Regions from separate parts of the Homo sapiens genome. Here region 1 is linked to region 2. The links come from fine-mapping of genetic effects on gene expression. A gene starts in region 2. The other region holds a variant in brackets. All regions are shown on one strand. Distances are between the middles of the regions.

The links. PIP is the estimated chance that this variant, and not a neighbour inherited with it, causes the effect.
Region 1: its variant is fine-mapped to the expression of PLPP4 in cerebellum (GTEx, PIP above 0.99). The same link has a PIP of 0.9 or more in cerebellar hemisphere.

What each region holds. Positions count from the first base shown.
Region 1 is chr10:120,573,290-120,577,289 of GRCh38, forward strand. PLPP4 (phospholipid phosphatase 4) reads left to right here. Exons shown (of 7, transcript NM_001030059.3): 6 at 1,842-2,012. Among named protein-coding and RNA genes, the nearest start is that of LINC01561, 23 kb to the right of the region's middle. RefSeq lists an enhancer at 1,838-2,337. The variant C/T (reference allele first, on the strand shown) is at 1,760.
Region 2 is chr10:120,454,988-120,459,466 of GRCh38, forward strand. PLPP4 (phospholipid phosphatase 4) reads left to right here and starts at 2,240. Exons shown (of 7, transcript NM_001030059.3): 1 at 2,240-2,374. The coding sequence starts at 2,319.

The DNA of each region.
Region 1 (4,000 bases), 120 kb after region 2:
ATTAAAATTTTTTTTTAAACCACTGTAACTTTGTTTAATTTGGTTGCTGAAAAAAGTTCTACTTTGGTATAATCTTGTGTTTGTAACCGAGATCGCTTTTAAGAAGGCACATTCTTATCAGAGATAATTTGGAAAAGCTGCAGGTTGTTCACTGTTTGGTACTATAGTAATGATTATCTTGAACTTACAGTTTAGGGTCCTACTTGTTTCACTTAGCATGCATCCTAAGTATTGTCTATATTGTTACATAATCATGTGGTTTTCATGGTTGCATCATAGTCCATTACAAGGAAATGTCACAGCTTGGTTATCTATTCTTCTGTACTGATCATTTTCAGTTTTTCAATATTTATCAATAACTTTGAGCAGAAAATCTTCTAGATTTCCCTTACATTTTATATTATTTTCTTAAGATGGACTTTCCAAGGTCTCTTATAAAGACAATGAATGTATTTTAGGCCAAGGCTTCTCCAAGTGCAGTGTGTGCACAGATCGCTGGTGGATGTTGTGAAATACAGATTCTAACTCAGCAGGTGTGGGTTGGACCTGAGGATCTGCATTTGTCACAAATGCCTGCATGATGCCCAGACCGTGGCTCAGGGCTTTGGGCAGTCTCTTAAAGTTGCTGGTGTATTGGCATTGAGAGTATTTATAATACTCGTTTTGCCAAGTCACTGTGTGGGCTGGTTACCTAGGAGCTCCATCCCCTCAGAAGTACTTTCTAATCAAGAAGAAAGTTTGGATTAGACTGGTGTCCAGAGGGATGGGGAGCTGTAACACCTGCCTTCAATAAAAGCCTCTAAGCTTAGTTGTGGCCACCATTAGAATCATCTGGGGAGTACACACACACACACACACACACACACACACACACACACACTCTCTCTCTCTCTCTCTCTCTCTCTCTCTCTCTCTCTCTCTCTCTCTCTCTCTCAGCTCCCTCCAGACCACTACAAACAGAATGGCTGGCAATGGAACCTGGGTATCAGTATTTTTTAAAGCTTCCCAGGTATTAGAGGTGACTCTGTATAGCCAGGGTTGAGGACCATTGTTGTAAGCGCTTCCCAACTTAAATCTCACTGAGCTCCCAACTATGTTTTATACCTGCTTGGATGTAAAGCTTGGGGCTTATACATGCTACACTCAGACCTCTACACTTTCGACAATGGATTTAGCACAGCCATGAGTTGTCTTTGCAATTCAGAAAAAACAATAACCATTATTTCGGACAGAAAACAAGGTATTTGTCATCGCTGACTTCTCCATCAAACTCACTCTTTTGTAGCATTTGCTGGTCCCATCTTACTGAATGCCACCATTGTACACTCAGTCTCCCAAGCCAAAAACCTGGGGCTGATCCTAGCCCCTTTACTTTCCCATGCCCTTCAGATCTAAGCAGTTCTCACAGTCCTTTGCTCTGTATGTACTTGTTTCTTATAGAATGTATCACATTATATTAAAATTATCTCTTAGCATGGTATGTCCTTCAACTAGACCATGAGCCTCTTGACTCCAGAGATAGTATCTGATGCATCTTTTTATTCCCCACATCTAGTGCAGTGCCTGTCTAGCACAGAGTGGAGACTCCTGAAGTAACTATTGAATGAATGGATGAAATAAAATAGGTTTTGATCACATATAACCCTGGAAGATTATTCTTATGGTTGAAAGTTTCATAGCAGCATGGTGCTAGCAGGAGCACAGATTGCCTAGATAGTGCCTGGTGCCAACATGGCCTTGGCCTTGGGGGTGTGCAAGA[C/T]GGCAGACGGAATGCCCAGCACGCACTGAGTCCCTGCCACTCACCACCTGCTAGAGTAACACCTGCTGTTTCTGTTTGGCAGTTGCCTTTTCGGGCCTTGGCTTCACGACGTTCTACTTGGCGGGCAAGCTGCACTGCTTCACCGAGAGTGGGCGGGGAAAGAGCTGGCGGCTCTGTGCTGCCATCCTGCCCTTGTACTGCGCCATGATGATTGCCCTGTCCCGCATGTGCGACTACAAGCATCACTGGCAAGGTGAGTCCCTGCCCAGGGCCTGACTAGTCCTCACTGTGGTTGCCCCTCTCCTCCAGGGATGGGTGTAGAAATGCACCAATTGTGGGGAGCTAAGTGCCCATTGTCCAAAACCAGAGGAGGCTGAAATGACAGAGCGGATAAAATTTTGAAGCAAATATGCTGGTTCAAGTGAGGTCTGGCCTTCCTGGGGAAAGAATTGGAGCTCTTCTTCCTCCTTCATGCTCCAGGAGACTGCTTGAGTCCTGCCAGAATGTCAGGCCCTTTGGTTTAGTGTCACCCTTGGCCTGAGACCCAAATGTGATTTTCCTGCTGGATCACTTGCCTCAGTCCTCAGAGTTGGTGCCAAGTGGTTTTTGGCTTCCTTTGCTTATCAAATCCAGCCTACAAGGACGTATTTGTCACCATGGATGCTCTTCCGAAAGGTATATCTAGCCAGGGATTCATTCCAGTAATGCTCCAAGCAGCAGCTGCAAGCCTGGGGTGAGGTTTGCCTATATATATACATATATCAGTCCTGGGGTATTTGTTAAAAATCAAAATAACACAAAACAAGGGAGGGGCTTGTTCCTGAAATATAACTAAACCATGCCATGTCCTTCTGCAGACAAACTGCAGCTCACAGTCTGTCTGAAAGACAACCACCACCTGCCAGAGCACACAGAGAGCTGAGACGGAGGTGATGTCCATGGGAGGTGTGGCCTCCAGGAAGCATGGGGTCTAGGGAAGGGTTTCCCAAGGGCAATCCTTGGATCACCTTGATCAAGCTGCCCTGAGCTAGAAATTGGACTCTCTAGGGGTGCATCTGGAGCAGTGGCCTAGAATCTTCCTGGATAATAAGCAAGCCTGTCATTGCTGATGAAGTCTAAGAAACACTGGTAAAGAGCTCCACCATATGTGTCAATTTTAACCAAACAAAGGAAAGAAAGTGTGCCTGAATCCAGCTTCTTTGAATGAATGGGCTTCCATGATAGGTCTGTGACCCAAACCTCCTCTCCCTTTCTTGTTTTCCGACTGTTGCTGGGCATTGTTCACCTCCTTCCTCTCTCTGTCTTTGCAGCCAGCTGCCTTGCAGGACTGCCCTCTTCCTACCTTTTCCGGGGGTTTGTTGCAGTGGTAATGAGGCAATGGATGGGGACAGGGTTGAGGGGAACTCCTAGCTGAGAGCCCCTCCTTCCTCATCTTCTCTGGAGACCTTGTGCTCCTTCTAGCACTACACAGCTTCTCCTGTTCCTTCCTGGTCTCATCCCTACCCCGTATCCTCCTGGAGCTCATGCTCTGGGTGTCCTGTGACCCCAGCAGGAGCTTTGGGCTGGAGGATGAAGGGTATAGGGAAAGAGATGCTGACATGGTTTGGACAGGTGGATGCAGCAAGCATCAAGTGCTACTAAGGTCTGAGGCCCTCCTGATGGGGGAGGTCAGAAGAGGGTCACAGGTCTGAACCTGCCCTTGTTCTGTTTTTATCAATGACTTGGATGAAATTCTGGATGATAAGAAGCCGCATCATGAGATGGAAGGATGGACAGAGTCACTGGGCCAACAAAAACAGAGGCACAGCCCCCCATTGGAACTGGGAATATGTTCCCGCAGAATTGTTTCCCACCTATGTGAGTTAGGGCATTTCCCCATGAAGAATATTACGGGCCAAATGGCCTTTTATGGACTGCTTCTCATTGATCCCTTGTGAGCCAGTTTCCTCTTTGAGCACAGGAACTATCCCTAATATTTCACAGAGCTTTTCATAGATTGAATGAAATAATGGATCCAAATGTTCTTTGTAAATGGAAATTTACTACACACATGCAAAGTGGTATCATTGTTGCTTAGTACATTTTTTCTAAGGAAGGATGCATTGTGTTTCCCAAACAACTGACTTGGAGACAGACTTTTTTTTTGGAACATGATTTATTTGTAAGCTATGAATGCCAGGTTTTCACTTTTATTCAACCACTTTGGATTCGGGGAATGATTGGGGGTTTCAGAATTGAATC
Region 2 (4,479 bases):
CCTGTTGGCCAGGATGGTGTCGATCTCTTGACCTCATGATCCTCCTGCCTCGGGCTCCCAAAGTGCTGGGATTACAGACATGAGCCATCGCGCCTGGTCCAAAAGCCAGCTCCTTTCCGTGAGGCTGTGTCCTCAGGCTATCTCAGACTGATGATGTGGTTCCAACTTCTGACCTCTGAGCGATCCAGATTTCTGAAGCATGTGTTTGTGACTTATTAATACTGCTTTGCATACTTCCCTGATGTCTCCTTGTGGTCTATCAGCTCCCCATCTTCTTGAAGGCAGAGACAGATTATGAATCGTCTCACCCAGCACACAACTTTGCACAGGCTGTACTCAAACTCAGCAGATGCTTATAGGTAAGTGGTGCCCCAATGTCAGGGGCTATTGTCAGAATGCCCTGCTGGAATATGGCCACCTGACAATCTCAGACCGAGATCATCAGTGTTCACTAGGCTGCCTATGGGCTCTCCTACAGCACTTTGCCAATCCGTGGGAGTTGTTATGTCCAAGGTAGTTGCTGGGCCCAAGATACAGAGGAGACAGAAGCATACCTCCTCCCTCCAAGACCTTCCTACCTTACCTGCACCTGACACCCCATGTGCCTGATGATATATACGTGTATATATATATCATATATATAGCCATATATAATATATATGAATGAATATATCATATATATAGCCATATATATATATATATATGTATGAATAAATATTTATTCATTTACTAAGTACCAACCAGGTATCCACAGTGTGCCGGGCACTGGGCATAGAGTGATGAGGAATGCAGATACAGCTCCTGCCTGTGGTGCCTCAGGGCTGGAGTCCCTCCCACACAGAGCCTGGGTTGTTCCTACTCCCTCTGCCTCTCTCTCTCTAGACCCTGAGATATCTGGGCTCAGGTATCTCTGATCTGCACGTGTTTCCTTTGGAGGTAGGGTCTGTTTGCCCTTTGCTGATGCCAAGGGCTTCCTCCTAAGTTCTTTCTACCTGCTCCCCCTTTTATCCAGGACTGAGCCATAGCTCCTTAGTCCCAGGAACCACCTTCTAATCCGTGTCCTCTGCTCACACAATTTTGGCTGGGTCTCTCCTAAAATCCAAGAGAGGCCTGGGCTCCCCAGGAACAACCTAATGGTTATAATCACTGTGTGTTTTGCATTTTAAATGTCTGCTTGGTTTAAATTAGTGAAGCCAAGAAGTCAAAATTCTAAGAAAAGTAAATAAAATTCTGACCGGTTTGGGAAAAGCAAATCCAAGCTCCTGCTGGGCTCCAGCTGGAGGTCGTGACCCCTAGGCTGCGAGGGTTGGGCTTTTGGCTCTTAACCTGAGGATGAGGCTCTGGGTTCTACCTGCTGCCTGGCTGACGGCTGGTTGAATGCTGTGTCAGCGACGAGCGACCCTGACTTCCCACACACCGGCCAGGCCAGGGACGGTGGCAGGAGCTTTTTCATATTCCACAGTTCAGCAGCCCCAAGCTGCTGGGGGCGGAGGACAGGTGGTGGGGGAGAGAGGATTCGGTCCCCAGGGGCCACCTGGCGCTGGTGGCATGGCGGGGAGCCAGGCTTGCCTTTGCCCTCTCTCTGTGCCGGAGCCCTGGACCCTGGCTGGCATCTCCTGAGAGCAAAGCGAAGCCCGCGAGTGATCTCTGGGGAACTTCCTAGAAAAAAGAAAGAATTTCAGGTTCGAACGGTGTAGGGAGGGCCGAACACGGGAGCAAGGTTGGCCAGGGCTGCCCTGAGCCCTGGAGAATCCCCAGAGCGATCGTCCACTACATGCCCACGTGCGTGCGTGTGCCAGGGAGCGAGAGCCCGGACAGCGGGAGTCGGAGGCAGGACCAGGAGCTGCAGAGGGGCCGCGGGCAGAGCCCCAGCGAGCGCGCTGCCCTGGCGCGGAGCCCAGGGGCCGCCCACTGGCGGGGGAGGCGGGGAGCGCGCAGGGAGGCGGCGGCGGCGGTGGGGCTTCCCCGGGCTTCCCCTCCCCGGTCCGCGGGTGCCCGGCGCGGGCCCAGGAGGCGGAGGCGGCTCCTGGGGAGAGGGATCCGGGAGTCCCTGAGGCGGCCCCGGCTCCGCACTAGGAGGCGGGGTCCGCAGTATCGCCAGCGGCCGGCGCGGCTTCCCGGAGCCCCGGAGCCCGAGGCGCGAGGTTTAGGCTGAGCCCTCCCCGGCGCCTGCCCCCGCCCGGCGCCCGCCTCCGCCCCCGCCCGCGGCCTGGAGCGCGCCTCCCTCGCCTCCCAGGGTCTGGCGAGCCGGCGCCGGCCGAGCTGCGGGAGCCGCGGAGAGCACCAGCTGACGCCGCGGGAGCTGCTCCGGCCGCACCATGCGGGAGCTGGCCATTGAGATCGGGGTGCGAGCCCTGCTCTTCGGAGTCTTCGTGTAAGTAGTGGCGCACCGCGGGCAGGGCGCACTGACGCGGGGGAACAACCGACCAAGCCTCTCTGTGCCCTAACTTAGTTTGCGCAGCCGCTTCCCACTGGGGCCTGGGTTCGAGGTCCCTTCCCCGCCAAGTGCCCGCAACGTGTCCTACGGGACCAAGAGAGACCCTTCCTCTCTCCTTCCTGGGACCCTAGGCGCGGAGCGACCACCGCGCGCCGAGGCTGAGACCTGCTCCCGGGTCTCACCGGGCCCGCGCCTGTCGCCAGCCCCGCACCACCTGCCCGGGGGATCCAGGGCTGCACCTCTAAACAGGGACGCGCACCCTGGCCCGTGCCCTCGGGAAGTTTCTCCTTCTGTGTGATCTTTGAGGCCCACGTTGGAAGTCTTTACCCCTGGCCCCGTCTCCGATTCCTCCCCGCTGTGCCCAGGGCCAGACTCCTTCCGTGTCCCTGGCTTTAGCGCCCGCGGTCCTGGCGAGCGTTTTCCCAGCGGGCGTTTGCGGCGCTTCTCCTACTGAGAAACTGTTGCTGTGGAGGCTTGAGAAGTCAAGGGGCTGCAGGCCGGGGTGGGATACACACACCCTGGAGCTCTGTGCCCGGTCGATGTCCGCTTTGGGGGCGGAGGCCCTCCAGGGGTAGCCGTGAAATGCCCAGGGTGGCTTTGAGCGGCTGGCACTGAGAACAGCGATCCCGAAAAGAAGAAGGGGTGGTGGCGCAGGTTCTTTCAGAGATGCCTGAGCCTCCTCCGTGCGCCCAGGGACCCACCGCTCATTGACTTCCAGGGCCCAAGCTGCAGGGAGCTGTCACATCTCTCTTTCAGACCTGAGCCCAGAACACCAGCTCAGAGCCACCCCGCAGCCTCCCGTGAGCTGCTGTCACCTAGGCACCCACACCTGCACTGGTCCCTCCATCAGTGAGCCAAATTCTCTCCCCCTCTCTGCCCATGGATGTTTTCTGCCACATTCTAAGTATTAAAGTTACATGAACTTTTTGGATTTGCCATGCATTTATTTATTTGTTTGTTTTTGTTTTCGTTTCTGGAAAAGCCCTCCCGAGCCAAACAGGAGGCCCTCTTTGAATTTCTGCCTCAATCTGGAGTCATCCATGGCAGGTGTGCTGTGTCAAAGATGACTTCTGTTCTGGGCAGCCCAGGGGATACACATGGAAAGAAATGCCCTTTCTTGCATGTTTTTCTTTAGCAGGGATTAAATTCATCCAGAGTATTTATTCACACCATCAGAAAAGGCCATGAGCTCCCCCAGATGCAAGCAAGCCCCCCTCTCCCGCCTTCTGCCCGAACACTGGTGTTATTCACTGGGAAGAAGGAACGAGAACTTCAGTTGGATTTTGATGCATTTGGAAAAACAAAACACTCTTCCCTTCTCCTACTCTATTTTCTACCTTTGGAATGTACGTTAAAACTAATGATTGCTGTGTGATCAGATGGGGACAGTTTCTAATTGGCAGATGGGCTAAAACCTCATTAAATTATTATGTGATAGAAATGATAAACTAGTTTTCAGTGCACAGTAGAATTTAACATTTGTTGGGTGAATGTAGGAAGAATGCTGAGATAAAGTGAGATAGGCTCTTACACTATCTCACTATCTGGTTTGACTGCTGCTGGGGGTGCTCAGATAAAAAAGGGTCCAACAATATGTAAAAATATTTATAGTTTTCAGGTGTCCCTTCCAATATCCCCCCCAAATATTTATGAGATGTTTACAGATATACAATGGTCTATGCAGTAAATTTGAAAACTTGGTAATTATTGCTTATGCGCGTCTTGCTTTTTCTAAGGGTGTCATGTAAAAGCTGGACAGGCAGTTTATGTTCTGTTCTCTGAAGTTCCCTCTTGTGTTACTTAATAGGGGATCTGTTGTCACACATGGACATTGATAGCATTTTTGGATGACTCCCAGGTTTCTTATCAAGTTGTTAACAGTGTGTCCAACTTGTGGCTCTTTTACCTGCAAAAACCAGCTTTGGTATTGATGCGAGCCTCCCTAGGGGGCAGATCTTGGATGTTCAGATGCTGTTAGTATCAGGCATGTACCGACTTCTGGGAGGACGGCTGGGAGCATGCAGAAACAGATGACCCTTTGT